Linked DNA regions of Homo sapiens. The protein of the gene in region 6 purifies or fractionates together with the protein of the main gene of each other region. This does not show direct contact. Each region holds a gene or a part of one and is shown on either strand. Other genes may lie near its edges. The genes, in order: CIBAR2, SLMAP, STRN, MYO1B, AGPAT5, CAMK2B and CAMK2N1.

What was found.
Region 1: the proteins of CAMK2B (region 6) and CIBAR2 purify together in Homo sapiens (affinity purification with mass spectrometry, with the first as the bait; one large-scale study listed by BioGRID). This does not show direct contact.
Region 2: the proteins of CAMK2B (region 6) and SLMAP purify together in Homo sapiens (affinity purification with mass spectrometry; one large-scale study listed by BioGRID and IntAct). This does not show direct contact.
Region 3: the proteins of CAMK2B (region 6) and STRN purify together in Homo sapiens (affinity purification with mass spectrometry; 2 studies listed by BioGRID and IntAct, with this or other methods). This does not show direct contact.
Region 4: the proteins of CAMK2B (region 6) and MYO1B purify together in Homo sapiens (affinity purification with mass spectrometry, with the first as the bait; one large-scale study listed by BioGRID). This does not show direct contact.
Region 5: the proteins of CAMK2B (region 6) and AGPAT5 purify together in Homo sapiens (affinity purification with mass spectrometry, with the first as the bait; one large-scale study listed by BioGRID). This does not show direct contact.
Region 7: the proteins of CAMK2B (region 6) and CAMK2N1 purify together in Homo sapiens (affinity purification with mass spectrometry, with the first as the bait; one large-scale study listed by BioGRID). This does not show direct contact.

Annotation. Positions count from the first base shown.
Region 1 is NC_000016.10:85,097,858-85,100,165, forward strand, and holds the end of CIBAR2 (CBY1-interacting BAR domain-containing protein 2), read right to left. Parts: coding exon 2,282-2,308; intron 1,490-2,281; coding exon 1,328-1,489; 3' UTR 825-1,327; coding exon of another isoform or gene 678-824; 3' UTR 501-677; downstream 1-500. UniProt on the Homo sapiens protein: May play a role in ciliogenesis. In cooperation with CBY1 may facilitate ciliogenesis likely by the recruitment and fusion of endosomal vesicles at distal appendages during early stages of ciliogenesis.
Region 2 is NC_000003.12:57,762,809-57,766,308, reverse strand, and holds part of SLMAP (sarcolemmal membrane-associated protein), read right to left. Parts: intron 1-3,500. UniProt on the Homo sapiens protein: Associates with the striatin-interacting phosphatase and kinase (STRIPAK) core complex, forming the extended (SIKE1:SLMAP)STRIPAK complex.
Region 3 is NC_000002.12:36,844,537-36,848,036, forward strand, and holds part of STRN (striatin), read right to left. Parts: 3' UTR 1-3,500. UniProt on the Homo sapiens protein: Calmodulin-binding scaffolding protein which is the center of the striatin-interacting phosphatase and kinase (STRIPAK) complexes.
Region 4 is NC_000002.12:191,251,904-191,255,403, reverse strand, and holds part of MYO1B (unconventional myosin-Ib), read right to left. Parts: intron 1-3,500. UniProt on the Homo sapiens protein: Motor protein that may participate in process critical to neuronal development and function such as cell migration, neurite outgrowth and vesicular transport.
Region 5 is NC_000008.11:6,753,642-6,757,141, reverse strand, and holds part of AGPAT5 (1-acyl-sn-glycerol-3-phosphate acyltransferase epsilon), read right to left. Parts: intron 2,092-3,500; coding exon 1,968-2,091; intron 1-1,967. UniProt on the Homo sapiens protein: Converts 1-acyl-sn-glycerol-3-phosphate (lysophosphatidic acid or LPA) into 1,2-diacyl-sn-glycerol-3-phosphate (phosphatidic acid or PA) by incorporating an acyl moiety at the sn-2 position of the glycerol backbone.
Region 6 is NC_000007.14:44,315,595-44,319,094, reverse strand, and holds part of CAMK2B (calcium/calmodulin-dependent protein kinase type II subunit beta), read left to right. Parts: intron 1-3,500. UniProt on the Homo sapiens protein: Calcium/calmodulin-dependent protein kinase that functions autonomously after Ca(2+)/calmodulin-binding and autophosphorylation, and is involved in dendritic spine and synapse formation, neuronal plasticity and regulation of sarcoplasmic reticulum Ca(2+) transport in skeletal muscle.
Region 7 is NC_000001.11:20,483,411-20,487,482, forward strand, and holds the start of CAMK2N1 (calcium/calmodulin-dependent protein kinase II inhibitor 1), read right to left. Parts: upstream 2,801-4,072; 5' UTR 1,970-2,800; coding exon 1,804-1,969; intron 310-1,803; coding exon 239-309; 3' UTR 1-238. UniProt on the Homo sapiens protein: Potent and specific inhibitor of CaM-kinase II (CAMK2). Plays a role in the maintenance of long-term retrieval-induced memory in response to contextual fear.

The DNA.
Region 1 (2,308 bases), on a different chromosome or scaffold from region 6:
AGTCCTACCTGCCCCCATACTTCAGAATGTGACCTTATTTGGAAATGGGGTCCTTGCTGATATAATTAGTCAAGATGAGGCCATCCTGGAGTAAGGTGGGCCTCTGATGATGGGCGTCCTTTATAGGAGGGGGAGGTTTGGACACAGGCTCAAGTGCACACTGGGAGAACACCACATGAAGAGGAAGGCCAGGTCCGGGGGATGTGGCTACAAGCCCAGGCGTGCCAAGGACAGGAGCCACTGGAAGCTGGAGGGGGCCTGGGATGGGTGCTCCCTCTGAGCCTCCAAAAAGAAACAGCCCTACTGACCCCTTGCTCGCAGATTTCTGGGTTCCAGAACACAGGAGAGTGATTTTCTGTGGTTTGAGCTGCCCAGGCAGTGGTGCTTTGTCAAGGCAGCCCAGGAAAGGAATCTACTGTGCTTGCAACATGAACACAGGGGCAGGCACGTCCCACCCAAGCCCCCAGACTAAAGGCAGAATGAGAGAGCCGGGATCAAGCTGAGAGTCACAGGGCATTTATTGAACACCTACTATATGCCAGGCACAGCGATCCCCCAGAGCAACCTGTGAAGTGAGTGATATTGGCCCTGTTGTACAGATGAGGAAACTGAGGCTCAGAGGACACGTGGCTTGCCTGAGGGCACACAGCAGAGCCCACCTGAGGATCCAAGGCCAGCTAAGTTCTTCTGACTGTTGTGGGCAGTTCTCTCTTATGGGGTCCCTGCCCCAGTGCCCTGAGGTCCTCCACGGGGGCCTCCTCCATGGAGTTGTCCTCACTCTCCTCCCCTTCTTTTCCTGGGCTCCATATGGTGCTCTGAGCACTCTAAATAATAATAATAATAAAACGACAGCAACATCAGTAATGATAATGGCAGCAACAAGTCTCAAGTGTTTGTTGCGCAACAGGCCGGGTTTTCTGTGCTTCGTATAGATCTGTTCATCTGATACTCAGCACAGCCCTACACGGAGGTTACTGTTCTAAGCCACTCTGCAGGCGAGGACTCTAAGGCACAGAGAGGCTAGGAGACTTTCCCAAGGTCACACCGCCGGGAGCAGTGGGCTCGGACCAAGAAATAGATAGCATAAAGAAAAACAATCAAAACTTCAGGAAACATTGGATACACTCACAGAAATGCAAAATGCTCTGGAAAGTCTCAGCAACAGAATTGAACAAGTAGAAGAAGGAAATTCAGAGCTTGAAGACAAGGTCTTTGAATTAACACAATCCAACAAAGACAAAGAAAAAAGAATCAGAAAATAAGAACAAAGCCTCCAGGCAGTCTGGGATTATTTTAAACGGCTTGGGATTGCACTTACCCTACGTCGTTAGAGAGAATGTCCTGGAAGCATGAGATGCCCACCCTGCCCACACACACAGTGGGCTGGCTGCCCCTTAACCACCCACTCACAGAGACTAAACCTGCCATGATTGGCATGAGGATGTTCAGGGTCTTCATTTGCCCTACTCAGCTGGACCTGCAGAGTTCCCTGCAGAAATATAAATGCACCTGATGGCAGGCCTTCCTGGGGCTGTAAGGTAACATCTAATGTATGTACCTAATCACCTCCCTAACCTCTGAGGAACCCTGGATTCTGGAACCCGCGGGCCCACGGGCTGGGATGGAGGTGTGGACCTGACTGGGGGCCTCTGTTTCTCAAGTGGCAATACCTCAGAGTGCCTCCAGGGAGTGCTCAGGACCCATGGCAGCCACGGCAGGGACCGTGTGGCCTACCACACTGGGTGACGTGGCTTCATTGATTCTACTTTTTTTTTTTTTTTCCTGAGACAGAGTCTCGCTCTGTAACCCGGGCTGGAGTGCAATGGTACGATCTCGGCTCACTGCAACCTCTGCCTCCTGGGCTCAAGCGATTCTCCTGCCTCAGCCTCCCAAGTAGCTGGGATTACAGGCATACACCACCACACCCGGCTAATTTTTGCTTTTTTTTTTTTTTTTTTTTTTTTAGTAGAGATGGGGGTTTCAACATTTTGGCCAGGCTGGTCTCGAACTCCTGACCTCAAGTGATCCTCCCACCTCAGCCTCCTAAAGTGCTGGGATTATAGGCATGAGCCACCGTGCCCAGCTTCATTCTACTTCAAGGCAAAGTTCTGGTCAGACCCCCGGGCAGCCCTCCATGCTCCCACCACCCCTGCCTCCTCAGCCTCCCATTTCAAATTCGAGTTCTCAGCCACCCTCCTCTAATCCCTGGGGTTACTACCACGGGCCTTCCAGGCCGTGCACGACATTTTAGGTGTAACCCCTCACCCACCCACACGCTCACCTGGCTGGCGAGAGACTGAAGAACAGA
Region 2 (3,500 bases), on a different chromosome or scaffold from region 6:
TGTGGTGGCTCACGCCTGTAATCCCAGCACTTTGGGAGGCTGAGGCAGGCGGATCACGAGGTCAGGAAATCGAGACCATCCTGGCTAACACGGTGAAACCCTGTCTCTACTAAAAATACAAAAAAAAAAAAAAAAAAAAAAAATTAGCCGGGTGTGGTGGTAGGCGCCTGTAGTCCCAGCTACTCAGGAGGCTGAGACAGGAGAATGGCGTGAACCCGGGAGGCGGAGCTTACAATGAGCCGAGATCGCGCCACTGTATTCCAGCCTGGGCAACAGAGCAAGACTCCGTCTCAAAAAAAAAAAAAAAAGAAAGAAAATCAGACAGAAGCCTAAAAGGGCAAAGAGTGAATTTAACCTAAGGAGTAATGTCAAAGAACTAAGTGGGAAAAAAAATGCTTTAAGTATATACACTGTCGATATTTTTAACAATTTGAAATCACAGATAAAATATTTTATCAATTTCCCACTATTATGAAAAATAATATAGAGGGAAATGAACATGTGCTTTAAAGATATAATCTGGCTTCCTATACATGTTCACATTATGTGTCTTAAATACAACTTGTCAAGTAAAAGACTTTCTCACAAACACCAGCACCCCTTAATGATCTTTATACTTCTGTCAACAAAAAACTTAAGTATCTGTTAAAACAAACATACAAACAAATAAAAAGTAAAAGAATGTATGACCTGCCATTCTCCCAAAAGCTGAGGCTAGGATCTTTGTGGTCATGTTTAGATGTGTGGAGGAAAAAAGAAGAAACAATCTTGGTTGTCAAATTCAGCAGGCTCTTCACAATGTCTTCCTTACAATGTCCTTGGAACATGCCGTATCATCCCTGCTTCTTCCTCCCACCCAAAACTCCTTTCCCTGACTGACCCTAACTACAATCTATCCCTTAACCCCATATTTTTTTTTAAGATGGGTCTCACTATGTCACCCAGGCTAGAGCAATCATAGTGCACTATAGCCTTGAACTCCTGGCCTAAGTGATCCTCCTGTTTCATCCTCCCAAATAGGTGGGGCTACAGACCTGATGCACCCCTGGCAAATACAAGTTTTTGAACTTTTTGTTTTTTAGAGACAAATTATTGCTATGATGCAAAGGCTGCAGTGCAGTGGATTTTCACAGGTGCAATTTTGGCATACTACAGCCTCAAACTCCTGGCCTCAAGCAATCTTCCAGACTCAGCCTCCCAAGTAGCTGATATTACAGGCATTTGCCACTGTTCCTGGCCATTCTTCCTCTTTTTAAAAGTCCTAAGGTCTAGTTTAAATTGGATTTCATCCATGAAACTGTTTCATCCATTAAACTTTCCCTAAAGTCTTCAGTTCACACAGGACCTTGCGCTTTGCCGAAGTCCTAATGTGCAAGTTAATTTAATACTCTTATCTTTTTTCATTTTCTGGCATTTAATCATTTTCATTCCTACTGTTAACCTGGTCTATGCCCTCACAAAATCACATCATATCTAAAGTGTTATAAAGCCTTTAGAATAGCACAGTGGTTATGAGCTTGAGTTTAAATCTCAATTCTACCATTTAATAGCTAGGTGAACTTGACCAAGATCTCTCTGTGCCTCAATTTCCTCACAGGTCAATGCAGAAAAAACAAGCACCTCAAAGAGTTACTTGAAGATTAAATAAGTTAACAAGTAAAGCATTTAGAATAGGGCCCAGTATATAGTTAGTACAAAAGTGTTATTTAAGCTGTTACCCATTTTTCCTTGCTCCAGGCAACTCTACATACTGCTATTGTATCACTATTGTATCACTCTTTCTTTCTTTTCTTTTCTTTTTTTTTTTGAGATGCAGTCTCCCTCTGTTGCCCATGTTGGAGTGCAAAGATGGGATCTCTGCTCACTGCAACCTCCGCTTCCTGGGTTCAAGTGATTATCCTGCCTCAGCCTCACAAGTAGCTGGGATTTCAGGTTCATGCCACCACACTTGGTTAATTTTTGTATTTTTCGTAGAGGTGGGGTTTCACCATGTTGGCCAGGCTGGTCTCAAACTCCTGACCTCAGGTGATCCACCCATCTCGGCCTCCCAAAGTGCTGGGATTACAGGTGTGAGCCACCGCACCCGGCCCACTCTTTCTTAAACAGGGGTTTGGTATGTCAGTGCTCTGCTCAGAACTCTCGTAGGCCTTCCATAACCCAAGGGTCCACATCCTAAGCTTGGTAAGCAAGGCACTTCACAACCTGGCACCACACTATCTAGTCAGCTTCATTTATTCAACAACTACTTTATACAAGATAGTAGGAAAACGTTCCTGTCTTCCAGAGTGTGAAAATTAATTACAAAGACAAGGCACAAACAAGAACATCACACAGAATAGATGTGCACCCTTGGCTACTCTTCAAAGAACTCTCTAATCCAACAAAGTCAGTTTCCTCAGCATTTGGAAAATGCAAAGCTCATTCAAAATTATCTGCTTTTTATTCCATCCTCATCCCCACAAAAAAAATAAAAATAACCAAAAAAACACCTTTTCTTATCTATCCACCCCTAATTTTAAAGTCAAATGTCATTATTCTTTTGCCATTGAAACTTACATAATATCACCTATCTCAACTATTTTCAAAGTGCACTGTCACCCTCTCTATCCAATGTAAAAGTTCCTAGAAAGAAGAAATAACAAATCCTCATCAGTTTGTCATTTTCTCCCCCTTTACCACTATGCCCTTCACTAAAACAAATCATGATAGAACAGGTGCTCAAAAAGATGCACTAGGCCGGGCGCGGTGGCTCACACCTGTAATCCTAACTCTTTAGGAGGCCGGGGCGGGTGGATTGCCTAAGCTCAGGAGTTCGAGACCAGCTTGTGCAACATGGTGAAACCCCGTTTCTACTAAAATAAAAAACAGTAGCTGGGCGTGGTAGTGTGTGCCTATAATCCCAGCTACTCAGGAAGCTGAGACAAGAGAATTGCTTGAACCCAGGAGGCAGAGGTTGCAGTGAGCCGAGATCACACCATTGCACTCCAGCCTGAGTGACAGAGCGAGACTCCATCTCAAAAAAAAAAAAAAAGATGCACTAAGTTTAAATTAAACGTGAGACTAGAAGTAGACAACTACTACCACTAGTAAGTAAACTTCAGTGAAACTGGAAATAGACTACTATGTCAACCACTAGCATGTCACCGGTACCCCAAAGCCTCAAATCAAATAGGGCCATCCAAATCACAAGAGTTCACTCACTATCCTTTCTATGTAACCACTATATGGGTAGATCTGCTTGCTCAGTGGTGCCTTGAATCAACAGAGGAATTAATAACCATTCTAGGCTGGGCACCGTGGCTCACACTTGTAATCCTAGCACTTTGGGAGGCCGAGGCAGGCAGATCACCTGAGGTCAGGAGTTCATGACCAGCGTGGCCAAATGGTGAAACCCTGTCTCTACTAAAAATACAAAAAATTAGCCAGGCATCTGGGCATGGTGGCTCATGCCTGTAATCCCAGCTACTTGGGAAGCTGAGGCAGAAGAATCACTTGAACCC
Region 3 (3,500 bases), on a different chromosome or scaffold from region 6:
CATGTGGTCCTGGTTAAATTAAATCTAAAGCTTGGATTAGCAAAGATCCAGAAAATTCTGACCCCCTAAGCACCACTTTAGGAATACCGCCAGAATCAATGAGTGGGATCTAGGGATCTGTTTGGCCTAACATTTGTTTTTTTTAGAATTAAAAAAACAAAACAAAAACTGAAAGGATCTGTTAAATACTTTGTCAACCTGGCATCCCTGACACTGACATGAAGATCCAGTTGGATGATGGATATTGCCAATTAAAAAGTTTGTAGTGGCAAAAGTAAAAATGATTCAAATTGACGAATGACCTGTCCTTTGTTTTTAAACACAGATACGTTTTTCTGGGCCTTTCTCTAAAATGAACTTTAGGGCTTGATACATTTCACAAAAATATACATATTTTTCGTCAGCTACTACTTTGTATACAACCTGAATCCCAGTGTCCAACACTTAAAAGTACTGCAATTATATAAATTACTAAACAAGTTAACAGTAATGGAGAGGCAACTTCTGAGTAAATAAAATGAATGATTATGTACTTAATAGCCTTGTAGTCACTTTCAAAGAATAAAGTAATCTAAATAAAATTATACTTAGCACTCTTTTTCATGTAAGTTCAATAATTATTTGGCTATTGGTTGAAAACATCACACAGACAGACACCAACCAAAGATTCATTATCTCCACTCGCTAAAAACATTGATGGTTAATTTTAAGCAATTCTTTCAAAGAAAAACAAAATTAATTCTAAGCCTTTCAGTCTGATTTGTGACATCTTAATACAATATAACTTAAATGACAAAGCCTGAGAAAAGCACCAACATAGATTTTTTTTTAATTGCATCCAACCATCATTTCAGATGTCATAAAGATTTGCTTCAGTTAAAATGGCAGCAATGACAAAGAGGTAGATATGAGAGATGCTTTTTAAATATTTTAAGACTATTCTTAGGTGGAATTTTAACTAGTTCAGGTATTTAACCTAAAAATATTTACTAGTTGAATCTTTACCACATAAGAACTTCATGACATGCTGTTTTGTAAGAGGGAAATATATGAAGTATTAAAAAGTGAGCCTTTAAAAAATTACATTTACTTAGCCAACATTAATGAGATCCCATAATTTTGGTGAACAAATAATTTCTCCTTCTACCTGAACTTTACTATAATTAAAGAATAGCTATTGTTTTCTCTACTGAAATTTCTAGGAATTCACATTCAAAATTCTTGGAAAGTATATATGGTGCTCAGAAGAGCACAAAGCGCATGAAATGTCCCCTGAAGTCCTAGAAGTTGAGCAGATACATTAAAAAGACATTGATGGTCACAAATCAGGACCTTCACAGATTGGTAAACACACACACACACACACACACGCATGCATGCACACACACACACACACACACACACACACACACACACTAACTCTCTCTCTCTCTCTGTGCCCCCCCTCCCACCCCCTCCCCAAACTCAATCTTCATCCTCACTGTAAGGCTGCATTTTTTTTTTTAAAGGCACCTCTCATTTTCTAGCTATTGCCTTCTTGATGATATTTGTTTTTGTTAAAAAGTCTGAATGTTCAATGGAAATAGTTCAGTACTGAGAATAAAATATTTTTCAATTCACATTTGAATAGCCAGGTTTTCTTACATTCAGATTTTAATACACTAGAATGACAGTCTTTAAAACAAGCATGCTAGCCTATAATGAATATTGTATATACAGTAATTTAAACACTTAGAACTATATATTATACTGCAAAAGCAAACAGCACAACACTCATCATACTCATCATTATCTGCTGTGTATACTACCTCCAAAAATGAAAATACAAAACAGTAAAATGCACCTATGGTTTATATATATATATATATATATATATATATATATATATATATAGTTTATATATTATATATATTCTTACAATATATATAATATATATTTATAAAATATACATACATTTTAGACATTTTCAAATAAATCTTCATCATTATCTCCAAAAGAAATTTATAGCAAGAATACTGAAGGAATGAAAGTCAGATTAAAAAAAAAATTTCTCACAAAGTTCATCATCAGTGATGCAGCTCAATTTCCCCCGTTTTAGTCATAACTAAAATGATTATAAAAGCGAAATATTTTGCATAACTAAGTATTTGTTTAATGGCAAAAGTTGTTAAACTTGTTCAATAGAAAAATACTGAAGGTCATTATATCACTTTTGTTAAATAATCTGTCTATGGTTTGAGTAGCAAATGAGCTCCATATGACAGTTGAGTTTTGAGAAGGGTGCTGCAAGCTCCCAGAGATGTATCCACAGCATATGAAAATAAGGCAGGGATCCAAACCTCCCGCTAATTTTCATACTATTCCAATACATTTCAAACAAAATATTTACAAATGAAGCACTATGAAAGCATTTCAATGGCTGTTTAAACATTGAATTTGTTCATTCTGTGAATTTTCATTGAATGTTCAACAGGCTAGGGGAAAAGTCAGACACATGTATATGCTACTCTGGTTGGAAGACAGCTTTGGCTCATTTCTAGGCTGAGATCATGCAGTGCTGGTAGAGAAGACTCTCTCCGTAGTCTCCAATGCCACAGCACTGGCTTTCTAAGGAACTTTCAACAGTTCCATTTGCGCTACAGTCTATGTATCTCATGGTTATTTTCCACTCACTGACAGAAAAATTTCAACCATGAAGCATAAAATGAACGGGGGAAGAATGTCCTGGTTTTTAGAATTTCAGTGACATTAATAAAGCAGTAACTGAAGATCTTAGAAGGTAATTAATAACTGGTAGAACAATAGCTTTGTGGTCATCCATCATAAATACACCAAGTAATGGCATCTTCCTTCCTTCCTTCCTGGAAGGAATTTTCCAGTATCCTTCTACAAATGTTAGGTTAGAAACATTCTTTCTTCACTGTGAAGAACCAAAAGAAATTTACTGAACACAATATGGAATTCTGTATCTGCATGGAAATATTAAGTATTCACCTGACAGCTCATGTTTAGGTCAATTCATTTAATTACACAAAGCAGTCTCTTGAGCCTGCTTGTTAACCAAAGCACAAAGATGAAATGAAAAGGTAGCTGTATTACTACAGCATATCTGTATGAAAATCAGGCAAATTTAGCACAAGTCTCTAGCTTTAAAGAAAATTTGCCTGTATAATGCAGAATTCTAGAGGCAAACAGGCAGAAATTTTACAGAAATATTTGTCAATCATTAGCCACACCACCACCAGAATACTTTTTCAAGGAGTAGATGTACGTATCATGAGAAGCATCATTGTTATGACGATGGAAAATGTGGGGAATGGAATATGTAGAAATTGTTTTAATTGGTTAAAATATCTATAGATTTAATATTTTTAAAATCTAAGAGCCTATTTATATGTTTTTTGGTGGAAAGTTGGACGTTAATAATTTATTTCCAATTTCTAGATTGGTCTCTGTCATTTGGGACAAAGAGTAAGAGAGACATAAACCACTATAGAAAT
Region 4 (3,500 bases), on a different chromosome or scaffold from region 6:
TTTCCCTCTCTCCGCCTTTCTGTTTCTCACAGCCCCCTGTCCTTTTCCTTCACAGTATCGATGCTAATCCACGAATACATATTTATCCGTGTCCATTTCCACAATGTCTCTTCCCCTTCACATTCATGAGAGCAGAAACCACATCTGTTTTGTTCAACATTAAAGATTCAGTACAGGATGGGTGTAGTGCCTCATACCTGTAATCCTAACACTTCAAGAGGCTGAGGAGGGAGGATCACTTGAGGCCAGGAGTTCAAGACCAGCCTGGGCAACATAGAAAGACCCCGTCTCCACAAAAAAATGTAAAAAATGAGTGGGGTGTGGAGATGCTGCCTGTAGTCCTAGCTGCTTGGGAGGTGGAGACAGGAGGATCACTTGTGCCCAGGAGTTCGATCCTGCAGTGAGCTATGTTCACACCACTGTACTCCGGCCTGAGCAACAAAGAGAGACCCTGTCTCTAAAACAAAAACAAAAACAAAAACACAGTACCTAGTACGGTGCCTGAAACATACTAGGCACCTAAACATTTGATGAGTTAATAAATGAACACATTAAATAACTAAAAGTCACCCCTTCCTTACTTCTAAAAGTACTGCATATAATTTTTAAATTAGGTCAGGTGTGGTGACTTACACCTGTAATCCCAGCACTTGGGAAACCAAGGCAGGAGAACTGATTGAGGCCAGGAGCCTGGGACCAATGAGACATCACCTCTACAAAAAATTTAAAAATTAGTTGGGCATGGAGGCGCACACCAATAGTCCTAGTTACTTGGGAAGCTGAGGTGGGAGGCTCATTTGAGTCCAGGAGTATGAGGCTGCACCGAGCTACGATCATGCCATTGCATTCCAGCCTATGCAACAGAGCCAGACTTGTCTCTAAAAAAAAAAAAGAGGCCGGGCGCGGTGGCTCACGCCTGTAATCCTAGCACTTTGGGAGGCCAAGGTGGGTGGATCACCTGAGGTCAGGAGTTCGAGATCAGTCTCAACATGGAGAAACCCCATCTCTGCCAAAAATACAAAATTAGCCAGGCGTGGTGGTTGCATGCCTGTAATCCCAGCTACTCGGGAGGCTGAGGCAGGAGAATTGCTTGAACCTGGGAGGTGGAGGTTGCAGTGAGCCAAGATTATGCCACTGCACTCCAGCCTGGGCAGCAAGAGCGAAACTCTGTCTCAAAAAATAAATAAATAAATAAAAATAAAGTGAATTATGACATTTTCAATAAAGGCTAAGTTATTTTATGCTGTATTGGAAAAGCCACCCAACTGCAGGCTCCCACAGCAAACACAGGTTTAGATGTGAACTTGATCAATCAAGAACTATTTATAAACAAATACAAAATCAATCCCTTTCTTGTACACCAGCAACACTAACCAGAAATGTACTAAATCATTCATTCAAAATGACCACAGAAACCATGAAGCACCTTGGCACAAATCTAACAAGCGGTATGAAAGAGTTTTACATACAAAATGATAAAAATTTCATTGAAGGACATAAAAGAACTATTAAAGAAGCTTATGAGGTTTGTGGATGGGAAGCCATTAAACCATAAAGATGTCAATTCTCCCTGAATTTCTATTTAAATGCAACACAATTTCAGTAACACAAAATTAAAGAAAAAAGCCCCACAAGCAACAAGCTTGTTGAACATATGTGCAAGCTAACCTGTGGGGGGAAACAGAGGAGAATGTGATGTGCATGTGATGTGTCAACTGACGCAAATATGGAAAATGGAATTTTGTGGGAATTCCAATAATTTAACCATATGAATGTGTAAGGTTACTTTCAACATTTCATTGTGCTTCAAATATTTTCTTTTTTTTTTTTAAGTTGTGAAACAGTTAAGTTCAGAAGAACAAGCGCAACCTGAGTCTGGGAAAACTGACAGAGAAGACAGGCACAAAGCTGGGCACTGAAAGATGTGCCAGTGTGATAGGGGAGAGGGGCTTCTGGGGGGAAGGAACGATCCAGAACAACAAGGTAAAAGCACAAGACACAGTTGAGAGTGAACCAAGTACGGCTCACATGGAATGCACATTCCCACAGGAAGCCAGGCAGTGACAGAACCTAAAAAGCTACAGTGAAGTGACTATAGCAGTGTTATCTACGAAATGATCCCCCCAAAACGTGGTACAATGGTGACATAAGTTGGGACAAGTGAATACTGTATCTTTCTCTTGGGAATTCACAGTACACAGTCACAAATGAAGGCCAGGAGAAGTCTTTCTGCAAAGAAACTTAACCAGCTATTCTAACATGTACCTGGCCAAGGAACCCTTTTTACAGGAACATTTACCAACTTTATGGGTAGGGTATTTTTTTGTTTTTTGTTTTTTTTTCCAACTTACTAATTTTTTATGGAACAACTCACTTTGGGTAACACTATACTCCAGTAACTCAGCCTTTTAAAGGTCTGAACCAGAATGAGGGCTTGAGGATTTGCAAAGGGCAAAAGATAGGGGAGAACAATAAATCAGACATAGTGACTGACAGGAGGAATGTAAGGGTCACAGAAAATGGGGAAGTAGGTGATGCTCTAGAATCCAAAGTCAAGATGGTGATGAAAAGGCTATTAGCACAAACAGTGAAGTGAAGTCCACAGGGGACCAAGTATTAGGTAAGAGGTAATAAATTTAGATTTCGACAGGTTTGGAGAGACGGATATCTCCCTAGAAAGAAAACTAAGCAAGAGGTTACAACTTGGAGTCAGTTTCTCAGATCCGTCCCCTGTTAAATTTAGGAGCTGAGCAGGTCTCAAGCACAATGAAGGGGTTACAGTGGTGACCTTTAAGACACTTTTCAATAGCAACATTCTGCCATTCCAAAAATTGAAAATTTGAAATAAAAATACCAATATAATCAAGTTCTATCTTTAAAGTGTGAATTGTGTGAATGCAGGATAAAAATAAACAATTCAAGATGAATTTCAGTACATGGATAAGAGGTTTTTAAGAGATCATGTAATTACAGATACTCAAGAGACATCTATGAACCTTTACAAAGCTGACATCAGGAGTCTAACTCTATTTTCCTTCCTGAATGTCACAGAATACCTGCAGAGTACTACGGCAAATAAGCCCTGAACCTGACCAACGTGGCAGTTCATACATTTTTATGAATAGCTCTCAACACTTTGAAAATTTCAGGCAAGCGAGAACTTTTTCATAGATGGCTCACTATATCAGGGGTAGCTCAAAACTGTGATCTACCGATTATGACTAGAAGCAGATAATATGAGGATCACAAAAATAACAAGCCATGCAAATTGGCATAGGCCCAATGTCTATGAAAATTAAGCTTTTCCTTAAAGCATTTAGACTGTGGGTCTAAAATGAATAAAACAGTGACCAATCACTCTGAAGTACTTTTAAGGGAAAAAATGATCAGTTAGGAAGCTAGTATATTTGCAATCTGAACATCACAAATAGCAATTCAGGATCTAATATAAAATGTAAAGCAAAGCAGCAATGATGGAGAGAGAAGGTGTACACTGGAAA
Region 5 (3,500 bases), on a different chromosome or scaffold from region 6:
TTTAGATTTTAGTCACTTCAGTATTTCAATTCAAAAAATATCAATCAGGTAGCTATTACACGCTGGAAAAGTTATGCAGGTCCCTGGAAAATAAGGATGAATACGGAAACATCCAGAAACTTGGTTTAATAGAAGTTTCTAGTCTTCTAAAATATCTTTAATATGCTCTATGATTAGTATACATGAATTGTATATGTAATATTTCAACAGGTGGTTTTAAGGCATTTTATGAGGATGCTTTTTGTCTTTTAAACTTTTGATAAAGTTTTACAGTGACCTGACTCACAAATGGCTAATAACCCGCTGCAGCTTCTCCTCCTTTTTACATGGAGCTCCTATTCCGCCAGAAGTCAAAGATAGGACCAGCGGTTCTTAGACAGCGGTCCCTCTGTATCGACAGGGGGCTGGTCCCAGGATACCCGGCAGAGACCAAGATCAAAGGATGCTCAAGTCCCTGATATATGAATAAAATGGCATGTATTTGAATATAACATATGCATATCCTCCCAAATCCTTTTTTTTTTTTTTTTTTGAAAAAAGGCACTCTGTTACCAGGCTGGAGTTGGCACAATGATAGCTCACTGCAGTCTCAACCTTCCAGGCTCAGGTGATCCTCGCACCTCGGCCTCCTGAGTAGCTGGGACTACAGGTGCACGCCTGGCTAATTTTTGTATTTTCTGTAGAGACAGGGTTTTGCCATGTTGCCCAGGCTGTCTTGAACTTCTGGGCTCAAGCAATTTGCCTGCCTTAGCCTCCCAAAGTGCTGGGATTACATGCATGAGCCACCACAGCCAGCCCCCTTTTTTTCTGAGTATTTTTGGTCTGTGCTTGGTGGAATCCATGAATGTGGAATCCATGGATATGGACTGCTCACTGCACCTGGGCTGTCTCAAAAACGCCTTTATTCCCACAGAATTAGAAAGGCAGGTAAAAGAAGGAAAACAGCATAGTTAACTCATTTTCCCATATTACATAAGATTTGTAAAGTTATGATAGCAGAACATACCCGATATAATAATCTAAAACACAAACAGAAAGGGAAAGCGCTTCTATTGCTTTATAAATCACACACCCTAGCAATAATCATTGTTTTAAAATGTCCAGAGGTATTCTAAATACTTATAAAATAAGTAGGACATTAAATACATTAGTCTTTTTTCTGAGAACATATTTTCATGTCAATACATGTAGATCTTACTTTTAAATTTCTTCCATGGGCCAAAGTGGTCCTGAATGGCTCGCTGAATACATTACATCATGTACAGTTAAGAGTCAATGAAAAATAGAAGCTTAAAGTTTCATTGTTAACCTATTACACTTTTAATCATTTTCACCTGGTAAAGTTAACCCAGGAGGGTTAATTAAAAACACTGTACTGTAAAACAAGGAAAAGAAGAACAATGATAGTTTCTTGAGCAGAAAGTACATATTTAGAGAATAAAACAATTGGCTAAAATTTCTGAATATAATTAACCACAGAAGACACTTTGGATATAACGCTGTCAACTGCCCCCTTCTATTTCCAACAAATATAACAGCATCATGTCCACCTGCACGTCCGCATAGTCCTCTACCCCTCCCTTGCTTTTCTGCGCACACTGGCCCAACAGCCAGACCTCACACAGTAACACCACTTTATGTGACCTGACAGGTAGGTCCGGGCATCTGACACTGGAAAGTTTTTTTGTGTGTTTGTTGTTGTTTTTAATTTAATTTGCTATGTTATCACGTAGTATTGTCCAAGAAATACTATCAATGCAAGTAGATGGGCCCACTGTAACAAGTTCTTTTAGACTGATTTGTACAAGTAAAGTTTAAAACACGATCAGACATGCATAAAATTTGATTTGAATTTATAAAATGTATTCTTGAGACAATATAACCATTTACATTGGTTTCAAATTGTTGACTATACTGAAATCTAGTTGAACCGAAGTTCCGGAAGTGCTGGAACTGTTGTTACTCACTTATCTTTGATTTCGAAACGTTCATGCAGCCATCTTCTCATATGTTCTTGTTCTTCTGGGACATCTTTTTTGTCGATACGATCAATGTGAATATGAATTTTTGGACATTCTTTGCAGAGAAATTCTAACAAAGAACAAAAATAATTCTTTTTTTTTACTATTTTAGAACTCATGGTCATATAAAGTAAAAATGAAAATAAGGTAACAGGACAAAAAAAGTTGTAAAATGAAGAAAAAGTACAGATTCCTTAGGAAAAATAAACAAAAGTTAAAAAAAAAGGATTATAAACTGGTGGTTGGGGGTTTCAAGCTGAAGTAGAAGAGCATGTTATAATTTCTAAGTCAACTACAATTACATAAGTCATTAAGTTAAATCAATAGTACCAAATGTTATTTTTCATGTGACAACTTTTAGTGCTATAGACAGCCCAGGAATAGGAAGCTGGAGCCTCCTCTAAGTCCATACTCACCTCTCTGAAGGGACCCGCAAATGCCTACCACCACCAGCCCCATCCTAGTGTGTCACCTGTCACCATGGTGACTGCTGCCTCCCCACCAGACTGCGAGCTCCACAGGGGCCGAGAGGAAGCTGGTCTGGCTCACGATGGCACCTCCTGACCTGGCACACAGCTGGGCACTCACAGGCGCCTGATAATCCTCAACTTTGCTTGTCGCCTGACACACAGCTTCTCGTCACTGACTGCTACACAGCCACAACAAACTTGGGGGAGCAATTGCCCCTCCTCTCTAACTTGGCCATTGGTTTCTAATCATTGCCACTCCTTGCTTTCCTGATACTTGCCATATTTTAACATATTATATAATTGGTAAAAGAACCAAAATTATTACTGTGGAATAGCCATGAGCCCTGTAAACAACTGTAGTTTCTAAGACTTGCTTATTTGAAAAAAGGAGACAGTCTTTTTCAGCCTCGATTGCACAAGGTATGAGGCTATTATTTATTCCAAGAAAGAACGGAGACTAGAAACTCCCTTCTTTGTAGGGGGCTCCCTGTGGACAGGTAAGAATGTTAACATATTTAAGTTCCTTGAAGAACAAAGAAATATTCCTAAGATTTAAGAGCTGACTAAGGTAGGGAGGTATGCCGAGTGGGAGGCTGAGACCTTTGGCCTCAAATTGAAAATGCGTTCAAAGACGTGTTCTGAGAAATGATGAATTCTACACTCCACCGTCCGAGGAAGACTTGTCTTTGCTCCTTCAACCCCACACACTTCCCGTTTTTGCTAAGTACTCTCTGCAACTGCTCTTCTTGACTTCAGTGTCGAGCTCTTAGTAACATGCAGCATTTAGGTGATCAAAAATACCCTGTATTCTTACACACTTCCAGGAGTAAACTGGCTTTAATAATACATGTGCAAAACACTAAAATAAAGATTTTAATTTTTCATTATTTTTGTCTTAATTTTCCTACAGTACTATCATCTGAATAATCAAAGAACTGCTTAAAAAGTATTTTTAGCAGCACAACTGTGCCCTAGGGAAGAGCACACATGGTGGAGTCAGGTAGCCTGG
Region 6 (3,500 bases):
AAAATGCATTATGTATCAACTTGGTTTTTAAAAAATTATCATATTGGCATATTACACAGATATGTATATTTTATTCATAGAAAAACTTGAATTTATTTAAAATGAAAACATCCTTTTATGTTAGAGAAAGGTGGTGTTGCTAGCTGCCAAACTTTTGGGTGGCTTTTGTCTCCTGGGTTAGAGGGTCACTTGTTGAGGGCTCAGTTCCTGGTGGACATAGTTCTTTTTGTATTGACATAATTATCCAAAAATAACTTAAGTTATGATTCTTTGTTAAGCCAGACAGAAGCTTTTGTTGAATTCTAGAACAGATTGGCAACAACCAGGCAAAGATTTAAGAAGATTTTATGGGAGGAAGCATAATGGCACACTTGTACAGGGTGGAATTTGGGACCCACAGTCCTTGTTTCCTCACTTTGTGAGCAGCAAGAGAAGCCTGGAGGGCAGGAGCTGCTGTCGCCCTTACAATGAAGTACTGCAGGTGTTATGCCTTTTGCTGTAATGCCCTCTGGGTGTCAAGCACATCCCAGTGAGTGCCGTTTCCAGCAAGGAGCTGAGGAGCCTTGATTCTGTCACCCAACACACCCTGAATTCAAGTGCTGAGAACAGTGCCTGGCACACAGTAGGTGCTCCACAGTGACTCAGCAATGGTCTGGGTCACTCAGGCCTTGCACCTGGGACTGCTTCCCAGAGCAGTGGCACACCCACCCTGTAAAAGATGAGGGCCTTATAAGAGGTATTGGGTGGCTCTGCAGGTAGGTCTTGCGGGTATTCTGATGTCCAGTCTGGGTAGACAGTCTTGTCACCCGGTGAAATGCAGTAGCAGGGCTGTCAGCACTTATATGTCTGTCATGGAGCTTGACTCCAAGAGGCTTGCAGCTTTCAGCTAATTTCTTAATGAGGTTGTTCACATGACTTCTTGTTTGTTGAGGTGCTGCCTGATTCTCAGCGTCTGTGAGTTTGATCCAGGCCATTAGTTAGGGGCTTTCTGGGCAAAGGGTAGGAGTCTGGTTAGGAGCAGGCCCTCCCAAAGAAGATGACCATGTGGTGGTTCTCAACCCCAACCACACATGGGAAGCCCCTGAGGAGTGTTCAGGCCCCATCGCATTTAGCCAGACACTAGGGAAATGGGGTATCAGCAGTTTTTAAAAGCTCCCAGGTGATTCCAATGGGCACTGCATACCTAGACTCTGCAGAGGAGTCTGCACCTGAGGCCAGACACTCGCCTAAGCCCACACTCCTTCATATAACCCTTGGTTCTTTCAGAGCCCACCTAGGCATGAATTTGAAGTTTACCTTCATTTTCTCTACATTCACAATGACATTACTACCCCACCGCCCACCCCATCCAAGTTGTCGAGAGCTGCATTGTCCAGAAGAGATAAAATGTGATACAAAGTTGAGCCATATGTGTGATTAAAAATTTTCTAGTACGTAAAGAAAAAAAAGAAACAGGTGAAAGGAACTTTAAAAATATATTTATTTAACTTTATATCCAAAATATCATTCAGAGGCCTGGTGCGGTGGCTCGTGCCTGTAATCCCAGCACTTTGGGAGGCCAAGGTGGGTGGATCACTTGAGCCCAGGAGTTAGAGACCGTGGGCAACATGGCAAAACCCCATCTGTACAAAAATTAAAAAATCATTTCAACATGTAATCAAAACAGAAATTATTAAGCTATTTTGCATTCCTTTTTGTACTACGTCTTGAAATCTGGTGTGTATTTTACCCTTACGGCACATCTCAGTTTGGACCAGGTTCTTATGACTACATGGTGACAGTGACCACAGTATTGGACAACACAGGGCCAGAGCTTCAAAATCACCATGCTTTTTTTTTTTTTTTTCATTTTTCCTGGTTTCTTTTAAGGATAATAGTTACAGTCATAGCTGTCTTAGTCTGTTCCAGATTTCTTTTGCTCTCCTGAAGACTTATTCATTTATTCAGCAAGTCTGGTTGCCTGTACTTACCATGTGCCATAGGTGCTTGGGAAACAGTAGTGAACAAAGCAGTCAAGGATGCCTGCCCTTAGGGAGCTTATATACTGCTGGATAGAGGCAGGCAATAAACATAAATACTAAAAAAATTATATGATAGGGTAGAAGGTGATTAATACCTCTGAGAATAATTAAGAAGACTCAGGAGTGCTAGTTAGGAGGAAGGTTATTATTATAAAAAGGATGGTAAAGCCAAGAAAAAAGAAGACTCCAATTGCTAAAATCAGGAATGACACAGGGGACCTTACTGCCAACCTTACAGAAAAAAAATTATAAGGAAATAACTATGAATAATTATGTGCCCTCAAGTTAGATAACCTGGATGAAATGGACAAATACTTAGAAAGACACAAACTACTGAATCTGGCTCAAGAAGAAATAGAAAATCTGAATAGACCTATAACAAGTAGAGACTGACTTAGTAATTTAAAATTTTCCCACAAAGGAAAGCTTAGGCTCAGATAATTTCACTGGTAAATCCTACCAAACATTTAAAGAAGAATTAATACCAGTCTTTTACAAGCTCCCCCAAAAAGTAGAAGAGGAGGAAATTCTTTCCAATTCATTCTGTGAAGCCAGCAATACCCTAATACCAAAACCAAAGATATCACAAAACTACAGACTGTTATCACTTATGAATGCAGATGAAGCATCCTCAACAAAACACTAGCAAAATAAATCTAGCAACATATAAAAAGGATTATTTATACATTATGAACAAGTAGGATGTATCCCAAGAATGAAAGGTTCATTCAGCATACAAAAATCAATCTATATAATACACCACGTTGATAGAACAAACATTGAAACTATATGAACCATTTCAATAGATGCAGAAAAAGCATTTAAAAAAAAACCAATACCATTTCATGATAAAAACTCAACAAATGACAAGTAGAAAGGAACTTCCTTAACTTGATAAAATACATTTGTGAAAAATCTGCAGCTAACCTCATATTTAATGGTGGAAAACTGAATGTATCTGCTCTTTCCATTTCTAGGCAGCACGGTATAGGAGATTCTAGCCAGGGCAATTAGGCAAGAAAAAGAGATAGAAGGCTCCCAGATTGGAAATAAATAGTTATAGCTACCTCTCTTTTCAGATTACATGCTTTCGTATATAGAAAATCCTAAGGAATCCATTTAAAAAACTATTAGAACTAAAAAATGAATTTAGCAAAGTTGCAAGATGTAAGACCAATATACAAAAATCCATTGTATTTCAATGGACTAGAAGTTCAAAATAACAAAATTAGGAAAAACAATTTACAATAGCATCTAAAAAATAAAACACTTAATACTAAATTTAATAAAAGAAGTACAAGACTTGTACATTGAAAACCACAAACCACTGTTGAGAGAAATTAAAGAAGACCTAAATTAATGGAAAGACATCCCATGTTCATGGATTGGAATATTTAATATTGTTAAATAGTAGTATACTCCAAATTGACCTACATTTTTGCTATGAAAATTCCAGCTGCGTTTTTTGCAAAAATTGAC
Region 7 (4,072 bases), on a different chromosome or scaffold from region 6:
TAAAATTTTATTTATTTTTTTATTTTTATTTTTGCAGAGGAGCCCAGAGCCTTCTCCTCCTCCTCCTCCTCCTCTCGCCTCATCTGTCTCCCGGCCTGATACCAGATACAGGTTGTTGATTTCATCGTGGGTAGCAAGCTAGTAATAAATTTCAAAGTGCTTTCTCTTTTCATGCTTTTTGCCAATAACTGTTACCGCCGTTCTTATTCTCTCCCTTAACTCATTGTCTTTGGGGGAGTTAGACACCAGGAGGTGCCTTGTCGGTCATATTTTTCAGCACGTCATCAATCCTATCATCTTCAATAACAACTGCAAAAAAAGGGGGGAAAAGAGAGGTGAGCGCGCTGGGGCCTAGCCAGAGGTCTCTGACATTTCCCGTTATGCCCAGAGTGGGAGGTCGGGAGAGGAGAGGGCGAGGGAGCAGGGCTCACTGCGCGGTGAAACAGCTCCATCCTCCGTCCCTGCCAGGGGTCCCTTCCCTGCTTTCCTCTGAACCACCCACCACCCTCTATCCTCCAGCCTGCGTCCCAGCTCCATTCTGAGAAAAGGAAACAGAGGGCGCCAACCCAGCCGCTCCTGCTGCAGCCAGGGCGCGCACTGGCCCGCGTCCTCCCCGCACCAGGCGCACTAATTTAGACAGAAATGTCTGGAGCTGGGATAGGAGAGGGAGCCAAAGTCTTTGGGTCTCGGGACCCCAGGTAAGTCCCGAGCGCAGCTCCGGTGGGCAAGGCTAGGTGCGGAGATGAGCGGAACCAGGAGGGGACGCCAAAACCGGTTCCCACGACGCGCAGCGGGTGGGGGTTAGGGCCTGGCCTGGGCGGGCGCCCCCTCCTGCGCGCCCTCTCCCAGCCGCTGGCCGACTGACTCGGCCGCCCCGCGCTCCCCGCTGCCGCAGAGGTCAGAGCCTCCCTTCGCTGCCTGCCAGGGACACATGCCGTAACCTCGGCCTCTCTTACCGTCTCGACTTAGCCTCGCCTTTCTCAGTCCCTCCATCGTCCCTCGGCGCGACGGCCGGCAGCCGATCGAGGTCTCTGTCTCTCCCTGTCTAAGGTGTCGGTCGCCCTTATTGTTTCGGCGGCTTCTGCGTCCTCCCCAAACGCGCGTCCTCGGCTCTGTCTCTCCCGCTTCAGCTCCCCTCTCGGGAGCTTTGTCTCGGTCTCTGCCACCCTCGGTCTCCCGCGTACCCCCTCCCCTCCATCCCTGCGTCTCAGTCTCTCTCTGCAGCCGTCGGTCCCCCTCATTGTCCCCGCGTCTCTGGAGCTCCTCTCGGAGCCTCTCTGCGTCTCCGCCTCTCTGGGGCTTTTCCAGCTCTCGCGCGGATCGCCCAGGCCTGGCAAACCCCCTCCCAAGCCAAGTAACAATGAAAAGCCCGTGCGACCCGAACACCCTAGCCTTCCCCGCAGGAATGGGATCCTCCCCACGCAGGTCCCCACGCCGTCCCCTGGGGGTCCCTGGGACCCCCTCCCCACAGGGTTATGGAGCGAGTGCAGCTGTGACTACACTGCGCAAAAGGCGGGGGTGGGGGGCGCAAATCAAAAAGCAAACTTTGCCGCGCGGGTGGAGACCCCCAGCTGCTGCTAGAAGCCGCCACGCCCCCAGGGTGACCCAGCCGGGGATCCGGCTTAGGGGGACGCGTTCCTGCGACCCGCTTCAGCCGGACCCGCAGTGCGGGATCCCCCAATTCTGCAAGAAGGGATTCCGTCAGGTCTGAACGGGCTCCAGCGGGTGGGAGACCTCCGCAACCCTTGTTCAGGCCGCGGCGCGGGAAAAAGGGGGTGTCAGACAAGGGGGCCGCGAACTCACCCCGCTTGCTCCGGCCGATCTGGCCCAGCTTGGGCGGCCGCTTGTTCTGCCCGGCGCCGAAGAAGTTGTTGGTGTCCTGCAGGCGGCAGGAGAAGATCTGGCCCACGTCGCCGCCGTCGCCGTAGGGGCTCAGCTTCTCGTCGCCGTAGGGCAGCACCTCCGACATGGTCGCGTCCGGGGGCTCCGCCGCGGCGCCTCCTCCGCCCGCGTCCCCGCCCGCGGCGGACAGGGTCAGCGGCGCTGGGGCCGGGGGCGGCCGGCCGGGGACGGCCCGCGGGCTGCTGCGGCGGTGGCGCCGGCGAGAGGCCGGGGGACGCCGCTAGGGCAAGAGCGCGGCACTCGCGCGAGCGGCCCGGAGAGCGCCCGCGGCTGCGCTGCGCTGCGCTCCGGCTCCGCGCGCGAGTGGCTGCTGCTCCGCCAGAGGCGAGCAGGACTCACATCCTCGGCGCGCTGGGGCTCTGGGCGGGGGCCGGGCCGGGCGGGGCCGCGAGCCGGGAGGGAGGAGACGTCCCTGCGAGCCCGGAGGGCGCGGGACCGAGGAGGGCGCACCCCGGGAGCCGGGCGGGCCGGTCCTGCGGCGAGTGCGGGCGGCGGCGCCGGTTCGGGGAGGCAGACTGGGAGCTGCGAGCGGCGGGGCTGCGAGGGGCGGAGGGGGAGGGGAGGGAGAGAGGAGGGAGGGCACCGGGGAGGAAACCCGGAGGGAGGGTGGGGGAGAGAAACCGAGAGGGAGACGGGGCTGAAAAACAGGGACTGAAAGACAGGGAGGCAGGGGAGACGGTGGAAGGAGACAGAGGAGAGGGGGAGAGGAAGGAGAGGAGGAGAAAGAAGAAAAGGTGGGGTGGGGGACGAGCTAGAACGGAGAGACAGGGGAAAGATGAGAGGAGGAGGGAAAGGATCGGGAGGGAGAGGAAGAGGGTCGGAGAGGGAAGGAAGGGAGAAAAACAGAGGGGGGAGAGGGAGGCAGGGATAGAGGAGGCAGCGAGCTGCGAGGAGAAATGCCGGCCGCGGCGCCGAGGCGAGGCGCGGGGAGGAGGGCGGGAGGAGGCGGGGAGGAGGGGACCCGCGGGCCTCGGGGAGAGATCCCTGCGAGCGGAGCGACGTCACGGGGCCGCGCCGGCCGGCCCGGGCTGCCGCTAGCTTCCTGCCCCCGCCCCCAGCCCCCGCCGTCCCGCTCACGGGTGTTTACGGGGCCCGGAGCTGGTGCGCGCCCGCCCCGCAGCCGGCTTTGCCTCCCGAGGGGACCTCGGGGGGAGTGGGGGTTCCGGGAGCTGGAGAGGGAGCGGACAGACGACGCACACGCGGGGAAGGGCGGAAGCATGCTGACCCCCCTGGGGGGCAGATGCTGCGGGGCAAAGATCGGAGGGCTCCAGGGCGACCCGCGGACATAGCCTCCCCCGCCATCTGCAAACCGGGGAGCCCTTCCTCCCCACCACACTTGCTCCCCAATTCAGACCCTGAGGGCCCAGCCACTGGGGCCTCACACTCTCCTCCCGCCCCGGCTCAGTCCGACCTGGAAGGCCTCACTCCCCCACGCCCCCGCCCAACTGCGCTGGACTCCGGCTCCCGCAGGGCCTCCAGGAGGGGGAGGGGGAGAGGGAAGGGGCAGCCCCGCCTCCCGCAGGAGAAGGGAGCGCCTCATTACGCCGGGCTCGCCCGGGATGCCTGGCTCCCGGCGTCCGCTGCCTCCGCTGGGGACGTCCCGGGTCTGCCGCCCTCTGCCCTCGGGGGTCTCCCTTCCAGCAACAGCCGTGCGCCCTGTGGAGAGACTATGGCCTCTGAGAGGAGGAGCGGGCTCCTCGATGCCGGGAGGGAGACTGGGGCAGCCCCAGAGGCCTGGGAGGCGCATCTGCCAAGCAGATGGTAACTCCGAGGGGGCAAGGTGCATGAGGAGCGCTCATTATCCTCGCCGGAGCCAACAGCACCTGCCCTCCGCTGGAGACCGTCTTTGCTTAGTAGAGCCGGCCTGACCACAGGGAGGGGCAACCACCCCAAGGTCATGCCAGCTGCTGGAGGCAGGGCTAGGAAACACATCCAGGTGGCCCAGGTGAGTCTCACCTGGCTCATCCTGCTGCCCTGCAAGGGGTCCCATCAACAGTGAAAGGAGCTCTCCCCTCCTATCTAGAACTCTGGCGGGTGGGAGCTGGAGGCAGAAGGGGAAGGTTTTTTCCTGGTATAACATCTGGTGGAGGGGGGAGTCAGTCCAGCCCCCTCTCCAAACGGTGTAAAAGGATTGGCTGGCCTCGGGAAGCCAGAATCCATGGGGGGAGGA